Linked DNA regions of Homo sapiens. The protein of the gene in region 2 purifies or fractionates together with the protein of the main gene of each other region. This does not show direct contact. Each region holds a gene or a part of one and is shown on either strand. Other genes may lie near its edges.

Region 1 (3,500 bases), on a different chromosome or scaffold from region 2:
CCCATACCAAGCATTGGGGCCAATTGTCTGATTTGTGTTCTATATCAACTTAAAACAATTTCGTATTTGGCTTTTGAGGGTAAAACATACACATAGATGTACCCCACACGTGAAGTTGTTGCATTAAAAGAGGACTTCTGAAGTCAGCAATCTCTAAACAGCGCTTATGTTAGAATTTCAGGCAGGAATGGGTAGGCAGGAAGTCCTTTTGATGAAGTAACAGCATTGTCTAATAACCCTTTCAAATTAAATCCCAGTATGCTAAGTTATCATTGATTCCATTATTTGTACAGGAAGCCCTTTAATATTGTTTAGCCATGACAGCAAATATAAAACTAAATACCCATTACTTATCAGTTATCCATGGCCTTTCTTCTCATGATTCTTCAGACTTTTGAACCAAGGAATAAACTGGTTCTACATTTTATTACATTTTTGTTTGGTTGGTTTCTGTGTGTGTGTGTGTGTGTGTGTGTGTGCGCGTGCGTGTGTGTGTGTGTGTTTGGTTTTTTGTTTCTGTTTTTGAGACAGGGTCTCACTCTGTTGCCAAGGCTAAAGTGCAGTGTTGTGATCTCGGCTCACTGCAACCTCCGCCTCCTGGGTTCAAGCGATTCTCATGCCTCAGCCTCCCAAGTAGCTGGAATTTACAGGTGTGCACCACCAGCCCCACCCAGCTAATTTTTGTATTTTTAGTAGAGACAGGGTTTCACCATGTTGGCCAGGCTGGTCTTGAACTCCTGACTTTGAGTGATCCACCCACCTTGGCCTCCCAAAGTGCTGGGATTACAGGAATGAGCCACCATGCCTGGCTGTTTCTACATTTTAAATGTATAATGTCTCACTATTAGCTATAACTACTGAGGTATAGATTTGTCTTTATTTATGGTAACAGTGTCACCTACTGGATTAGGCACATCGTATGCAACTCCCTTCCCAAACACAGGTGTTGTCAGGCGACTGTAGACATCTTCTGCATTCAGGTCTTCATTTTTACTATTAAAAAGCAGTGCAGCAGCATCACTCCCCAGAAGGTAAGTAAATGTCTTGCCTACCATGGTAAAACTAAATACAGGTCCATACTAAAAAGAGAAAAGTACATATAGTGATGTTACAAAAAATATGCAACACTACGACAGTAACTTTTTAAAATCACAAAATAATGCATTATTAAAAAAATAAAAACATATATAAACCTTAAAGCAATTCTTTTCATCTTGCCATACTCCTCCTTCCTTTGTCCAAATTTATAATTATGTTCATTTAGTTGCAAATGTAGTATAAATATAACTGTTTATTATGCTTTTTTCAGTTTATATTGACAATGTTTTCTATTGTCTATATAAACATCACAATGTTAATTTACTGACTACTCTTTCATTATTGGACATATGGGTGATATGTCAGGGTTTTCTTTAGTTATTACAGCTAATTCTGTGATGAACACCTCTGAAAATATAGACTTCTTCCCCCTTTGGTTAAAAACAAATTTTACAAGACTAGCCAAAGAATTTGACCTTTTCTATAGTACCTGCTATGTGAAGACACTACAAGTTTATTTATCTATTTTAGCACTATCTCACCTACACTAAATGACTTCATTTTTTATTTTATATTAATTTGGTTAGATGTTAAATACTTTCCCTTGCAGTTTTCTGGTTATGATTGAAGACTAGACTCTGGGGGTATAATCATGAAAAAAAATACTGTCCCAACTCACCAAGCTTAGTCTATTGGAAAAAATACAAATTAATCAAATAATCACATTAACAAACATAAAACTGCAAATGTGACAAGTATTACAGAAAGGAAAGCAACTCTGTGATGAGAGAATCTAAAAAAGGGAGACCTAATAGAGGAAAAGACAACTAGGTTGAGACCAGAAGAATGAGGAGCTGGTTTGGTAGCTAAACATACACAAAGGCCCTAAAAGTAAGAGAAAGAGAAAGGAGGAGATGAGAGTTGAGCATTAGGCAGTGCTAGACCATACAGAGCCTCATAAGCCATTTTGAGGAAGTTTTTAAACGGGTGACAAGAATTTTTCAGAGAAAAAGGAAAGATGCCATTGAAAAAGAAGTCAACAATACACTGAGAAAACAAATAAAAGTAAAAAGTTCCTGAGACAAAAGAGGGATGGAGAGTTCAGCCTCCGATAAGAGGCAAAATATAGTTGTAATAAAATCAAAGTGGTAGAACGCAGTGAGCCAGACTGTCCGTGTTCAAATCCCAGCTCCTCCACCTACTTGCTGTATGACTTTGGTCCTATAGTCAGAGAACTTAGTCTCTCTGTGTTTCGTTTCTCTCACCTATAAAATGGTAATAATAATAATAGCAGTTCTTCACAGAGCTGCTGCCAAATTTTATATACAGGGCAGAGAAGAGTACCTTGGCTTACTTAGCATCTTAATGACTTGTTTTCCATTATTGTTATCATTAATAAAAGTATAGGCTCAGAAATCAGACCATGTGTAAATCCTGGCTTGGCCACTGTCTAGCAGTGAGTCCAAGAAGAAATTATATATCCTCTCTGCTTCTCAGTTTTGTCATCTATAAAACAAATATACCTGAAAGGGTTTTTGTGGAGCTTCAGTGAGATGATCTTTGTAAAGCACTAAGTACTGGCATAAAGTAAGTGTTTGATAATTATTACTGTGATAGGAAGAAAGAGAATAGGATTACTATATAAATACAAGTAGGTTTGCATATTTGAAATTGAGAAAATGAGGAAGTTTTCTTTGAATGTTTTAATAATTGTCTCCTAAATCAACGTTTTTAATCATTGTCTCCTAAACAGGAGAAAAAATCATCTGCTTTGATGGAGAGGTAGAAAGATTCAGAAGTTTAGAAAAGTGAAGGTTTGAATTAGTCACTGTAATGAGTGGAAAAGTAGGCCCAATCACAAGAACATAATAGGACTGTGGAGCAGTGTTCAAATATCATTAAGGTAGGCAATCATAAAATCAGGAAGAAACTAATCTGGTGCAGAAGGAGACAATAACTGGCTGCCTCCAAGGGTGACTTCTGCCAGCTGAACACAATGAAAAGATGCGGGGTCGAGGAAATTTAAAGTACAGTATTGCCAAGAGTGTAACAGAAACGACATGCCATGGACCCAAAGCGGAAAGAGGAAAGTGAAGAATGAAGGCTGATGGATCAGGAGAAAGTAAATGGAATGCAAGATCCAATGAGGTCAAAGAATAGTTATAATTTAAGGAGTTGCACAAGCAAACCAGGAGACGGTATGGTCTACGAATAGGATATCTAAATTAATATTGTGGAAGTGAAACAGTTAAGAGTGACAAGTCCAAAGCGAGACTGTGAAGTAAATGGCTTAACTGGCACAGGGAAGCTCATTAGAGAGAAGACGGGCAAATAATTGAGTAGCTATGGTGTCATGTGGGTCATTCAAGTGGACAGTGAAATCACAGAAGATGTATAGAGCAGGTTAGAAAACCCCACAGATGCATGGTAAAGAAAAATGAGGGTTAATTAATATCAATTTT
Region 2 (4,196 bases):
CAAAATTTTCAGTGACAACTCAATAATGTGCTCCTGCCTTTCATAATAAAACTGCCTTGTTTATTCTTGGATATTATGTTTTTAATTTTAAGCAAGGATGGATGGCATCAGTCTAGAACTTCTCCCATGGCTGCATTAGAAACACATCTACATTAGAGGGTTGGCTCTTTGTCCTTGTTGGGAACCCAAATGCTCTGCACGCTCCTGTAAGCTATCTCCAATCCCACCAAAAACTTGAAACCAACACCATCTTCTGCCCTCCTGGATGGACCATGAAACCTTGATTTTCAGTCAGGTAAGAAAAGCTTATTCTTACTACTCTCCCCATGTAAGAAACTGTGTTTGAGGACCAGTCATTTGGACTTTGCTTCAAAAGGCACATTTATTCCAGTGGCAATTTAAATAAGTAGAGAAGGAAAAAAAAAGATTAAAAACAAAACAAACTAACAAAAACCAGGATGGGTTTTGTGGAATACATTAAAGTAAACAAAAATCTGGGGTCTATACAAACCACTCGAGCTCCTCACCAATAGTTTAACCAGAGTCCCTAAGGTAGAATTCACAGTTGTATCATGACACACGCCTTCAGAAAACACTGTTTAAGAAAGTAATTGAGAACTCTCAAGCAGCTTCCCCTGATGTCCAGTTCAAGTGTATGCAATGCAGAAGGCTGTGAAATTCAAAACTATGTGACAAAGAAAATTCAGTGCGTACCACAGGCTTTGATAAATTATGAAAAATCAATGTATATATTACTATTTAAATAACATCTGAAAAACATTTTGAAATAATTAACTTGTGTTCACATTCCATGCATTTTCTAGCAGGTTAAGCCCTGGGTTTGCGTCTTTGTGCCTGTTTCCTACAAAGCTCCATTCTTTTGACAAATCCAAGCATTCCTCAGACTGAAACAGAAGTTCCCAAGGATTCTATTTACCCTCTTTACTGTGTACCTGACCTCACAGGGGCTACTCCTTATTACCAATGGCACAGATGATTGGAAAAGCAAACTCTTTGGGGCTTTATTTGGGATTTTACTCACTGCCTTTGAGAAATCCCTGGATGTCAAAGACATCACCTGAATTTTTTCCAGGGGCAAGAACAAGTGACTATCTCCCTCCCGCTTGACCACCCCTGCCAACCTCCCTACTTCAAAGCCTCCAGTGGGTTGGGATCCCTTTGTAGCAGTGAACTTTTTCCCTATGGTTTTGCAGCACCTTCCTTGAGCAAAGAAGAAAACACAATGAAATTTGAAAACAAACCAACAATAGCAACAACAGAAACTCCAAACAGATGGGCGAACCAGTAGTCTCCTCCAAGGCGGAGGCTCACTTTTTACTGCAGAATTCGGAGCTGTTTAGGAACTTCCTGATTACCAGCCCCAGGCAGACCACCAGCAGCAGCATGTAGCCCACAGTACCCGAGAAAGTGGGTGCGGCAGGCGGCGCCTGGAGGAACTGGCGCAGGCCCTCTTCTACGTAGTACACCTGGTCGTAGATGCTGAGGAAGGTGAAGATGTGGAAGAGCTGGTGGCTGTGGCCGATAATGTCGAAAAGACCCGGCTGGATGCGCTCGGGGATCTTGCTCACGTTGAAGAAGGCGGCCACCACCAGCCAGAAGTAGCGGCGGTAGAAGTGCACGAAGAGTGTGGGGTTCTCCCCACGCAGGTCGAAGAGCCAGCTCTCGAGCATAATGGGGCAGGCCATGCTGAGCGGCATGACGAAGACGAAGGTGCGCAGCGCGAACGGGTAGGTACACCAGTCGGTACGGCTCTTGCAGCAGGCCACAGTGCAAGCCACCGCCAGCACGAAGGCCACAGGCAGCACCAGGGCGCGGTAGGCGGCGATAAGGCGCGTGCAGTCCACGTGCCAGCCCAGGCGCTGCTGCAAGTATGGAGTCATGACTCTGGCATCCAGCAAGCTGAGGCCTGGCAACAGGTAGTAGTAGTAGGCCACCGTGCTGCCGAAGCCGTAGTAGCTGATGGACGCGTAGTCCAGGTAGAAGAAGGCGGCGCGCAGACGCAGCGACAGGCAGCTGAACACGTGCGCCGTGCAGCTCATGGCGAAGGTCAGCAGCACTCCCGACGCGTAGCACCACAACGGTAGCAGCCACGGGTGGTGGAAGGGCACGTCGCCGCCGCTCAGGAAGAACAGACGGCAGAACTTGCTCAGGAACAGCAGCAGCGGGATGAAGTGCGTCCAGAAGTTGAGCGTCTCGTTGGTAGGCTTCAGCACCGAGGCTAGGCACTCCTGGGCCGTGCACGGCAGACGCCGGTAGCCCGACAGGATGAAGCACTCCACGAAGTCGTCGGGCACCTCGTCCCAGCGCAGCAGCGGCTTGGCAGACGCTGGGGGGTCCCGGGAGGCGGCAGAGTGGGAGTTCCGGGCGGCCCCCGAAGCTGCCGGGGCCGGGGCCGGAGGGCCTTTTGTGCCCGCGCCCCGGGGCTGCAGGCGCCGCGGCATGGTGCCCGGGGCTCGGCTAGGGCGCGCGCAGGCGACCTCTGGCGCCGGCTCCCGGGCGCTGGGCAGCCCCCGCCGGCCGCCGTCGGAGCCTTTGTGCCCACGCCGGGGGCGTCGCTGCAGGTTTAGGAGAAGACCCGTGCCTCCGAGCAGCCGCTCCTAAAAATTAAATAAATCAATAAGAGAATCAATTAATAGGCAGCGCTGCGACCGCCAGGAGCGCGGAGCGCGCGAGGCTCAGCGGCTTCCTCGCCAAGCCCCTGCTACCGGCGCGCGGCCGCCCGCGCTGCGGCAGCGGCGGCGGCGCGGCTGACTGCGGCGGCAGCGCGGCAGCGGTGACTGGGCATCGCGCGGTGCGGGTGCCTCCGCCGCCGCCGCCCCCGGAGCGGGAGGTGGGGATGTGCGAGCCGAGGCGCGGAGGGAGGGACGGGCGCACCGAGGAAGGGCGGGGGCCTCCCAGGCTAGGGTTTCGCGGCCGCTTCGGGGGATAGAGTTGTCCCCTGTCTCGAGTTCCGTACCATCCCCCTCCTCGGGCCGCCGCAGCCCGGGCCGCCCCGTTAATGATTGATGCGGGGGCCGCAGGCTGGTCGGCGACGCGGCGGCGCGCGCGCCGAGTACTAGAGTCGGCCCTGGGGTTCGAAACCCGACAGCCACGCGGGCGTTCTGGAGGACACTGGGGAGCCGCGTTCGCGGGGGGCGGGGAGCTGCGGCTGCGGGGGGAGGGGAGGGCGCCGGAGCCGGGCAGGGCGGAGAGATGCGCCAGCGGTAATCTCCGGAGGTCGCCGGGGAGGGGGGCACTCCGGAAGTCGGGGGGCTTTAAGCCCGCGTCCGGATCGGGGCCGTGTCATTGTCAGCTACCTGGGGATGCGCCTCTCGCTCCCTCACTGTCTTTGCGTGTGTGTTAGTGTGTGTGTGTGTGTGTGTGTGTGTGTGTCGGCCTGTCTACGCACTACACGAAGGCTTAGTTGGTCTTCTTTCGTCTAGTGGGCGCACTCAGGTGCGTCACCATTCTGCCGTTTCCCTCGCCCTTGTCCTGTCCGAAAGAACCGTCCGCAAGCTGCCCTGTGGTCGCGCTCACCAGCTCTTCGAGCCGCAGCTAACCCATCTTCTTGTTTTTGTGTCTTTAACTAGGACTTCTATTTGGAACTGAGTCCGACAGCTCAGGACTGGCTGCTCAAACTCCACAATTTAATGAAAAATCTCAGATGATGACTCAGAAAACCTCTAATGATCTGAGGAATATATTAAGGGATTCCAGAGTCAAAGGCTGATCATGGAGGGCATTGATGAGGGAAGACTTCAGGTAGGAGGTGCATTCTAGCAGGAACTGAAGAGAATGAAGTCCAGTTGGTAGAAACGGAGGGGGTGGCTTGGATAAATCTTATATGTAATTAATCAGAAGTACCTGGCAGGTGGCTGGAGACCAGAAGAAAGGAACACTGGAAGAATGAAAACGGTTGTGATGCACTGCAGTGTGAAAATATGCCCTTGAGCCTTAAAGAAAGGGGCTTAAGGCCGGGCGCGGTGGCTCACGCCTGTACTCCCAGCACACAGATCACGAGGTCAAGAGATTTGAGACCATCCTGGCCAACACGGTGAAACCCCGTCTCTACTAAAAATACAAAAAATTATGTGGGAGTGGTGGCGCACGCCTGTAGTCCCAGCTACTCGGGAGGCTGAGGCAGGAGAATCGCTGGAACCCAGGAGGCGGAGGAGGTTACAGTGAGCCGAGATCGC

Evidence for each region. The genes of interacting proteins can lie anywhere in the genome.
Region 1: the proteins of PAQR9 (region 2) and CYP51A1 purify together in Homo sapiens (affinity purification with mass spectrometry, with the first as the bait; one large-scale study listed by BioGRID). This does not show direct contact.

Annotation. Positions count from the first base shown.
Region 1 is NC_000007.14:92,127,978-92,131,477, forward strand, and holds part of CYP51A1 (lanosterol 14-alpha demethylase), read right to left. Parts: intron 1,080-3,500; coding exon 903-1,079; intron 1-902. UniProt on the Homo sapiens protein: Sterol 14alpha-demethylase that plays a critical role in the cholesterol biosynthesis pathway, being cholesterol the major sterol component in mammalian membranes as well as a precursor for bile acid and steroid hormone synthesis.
Region 2 is NC_000003.12:142,960,875-142,965,070, forward strand, and holds the start of PAQR9 (membrane progestin receptor epsilon), read right to left. Parts: upstream 2,801-4,196; 5' UTR 2,463-2,800; coding exon 1,329-2,462; 3' UTR 1-1,328. UniProt on the Homo sapiens protein: Plasma membrane progesterone (P4) receptor coupled to G proteins. Seems to act through a G(s) mediated pathway. May be involved in regulating rapid P4 signaling in the nervous system.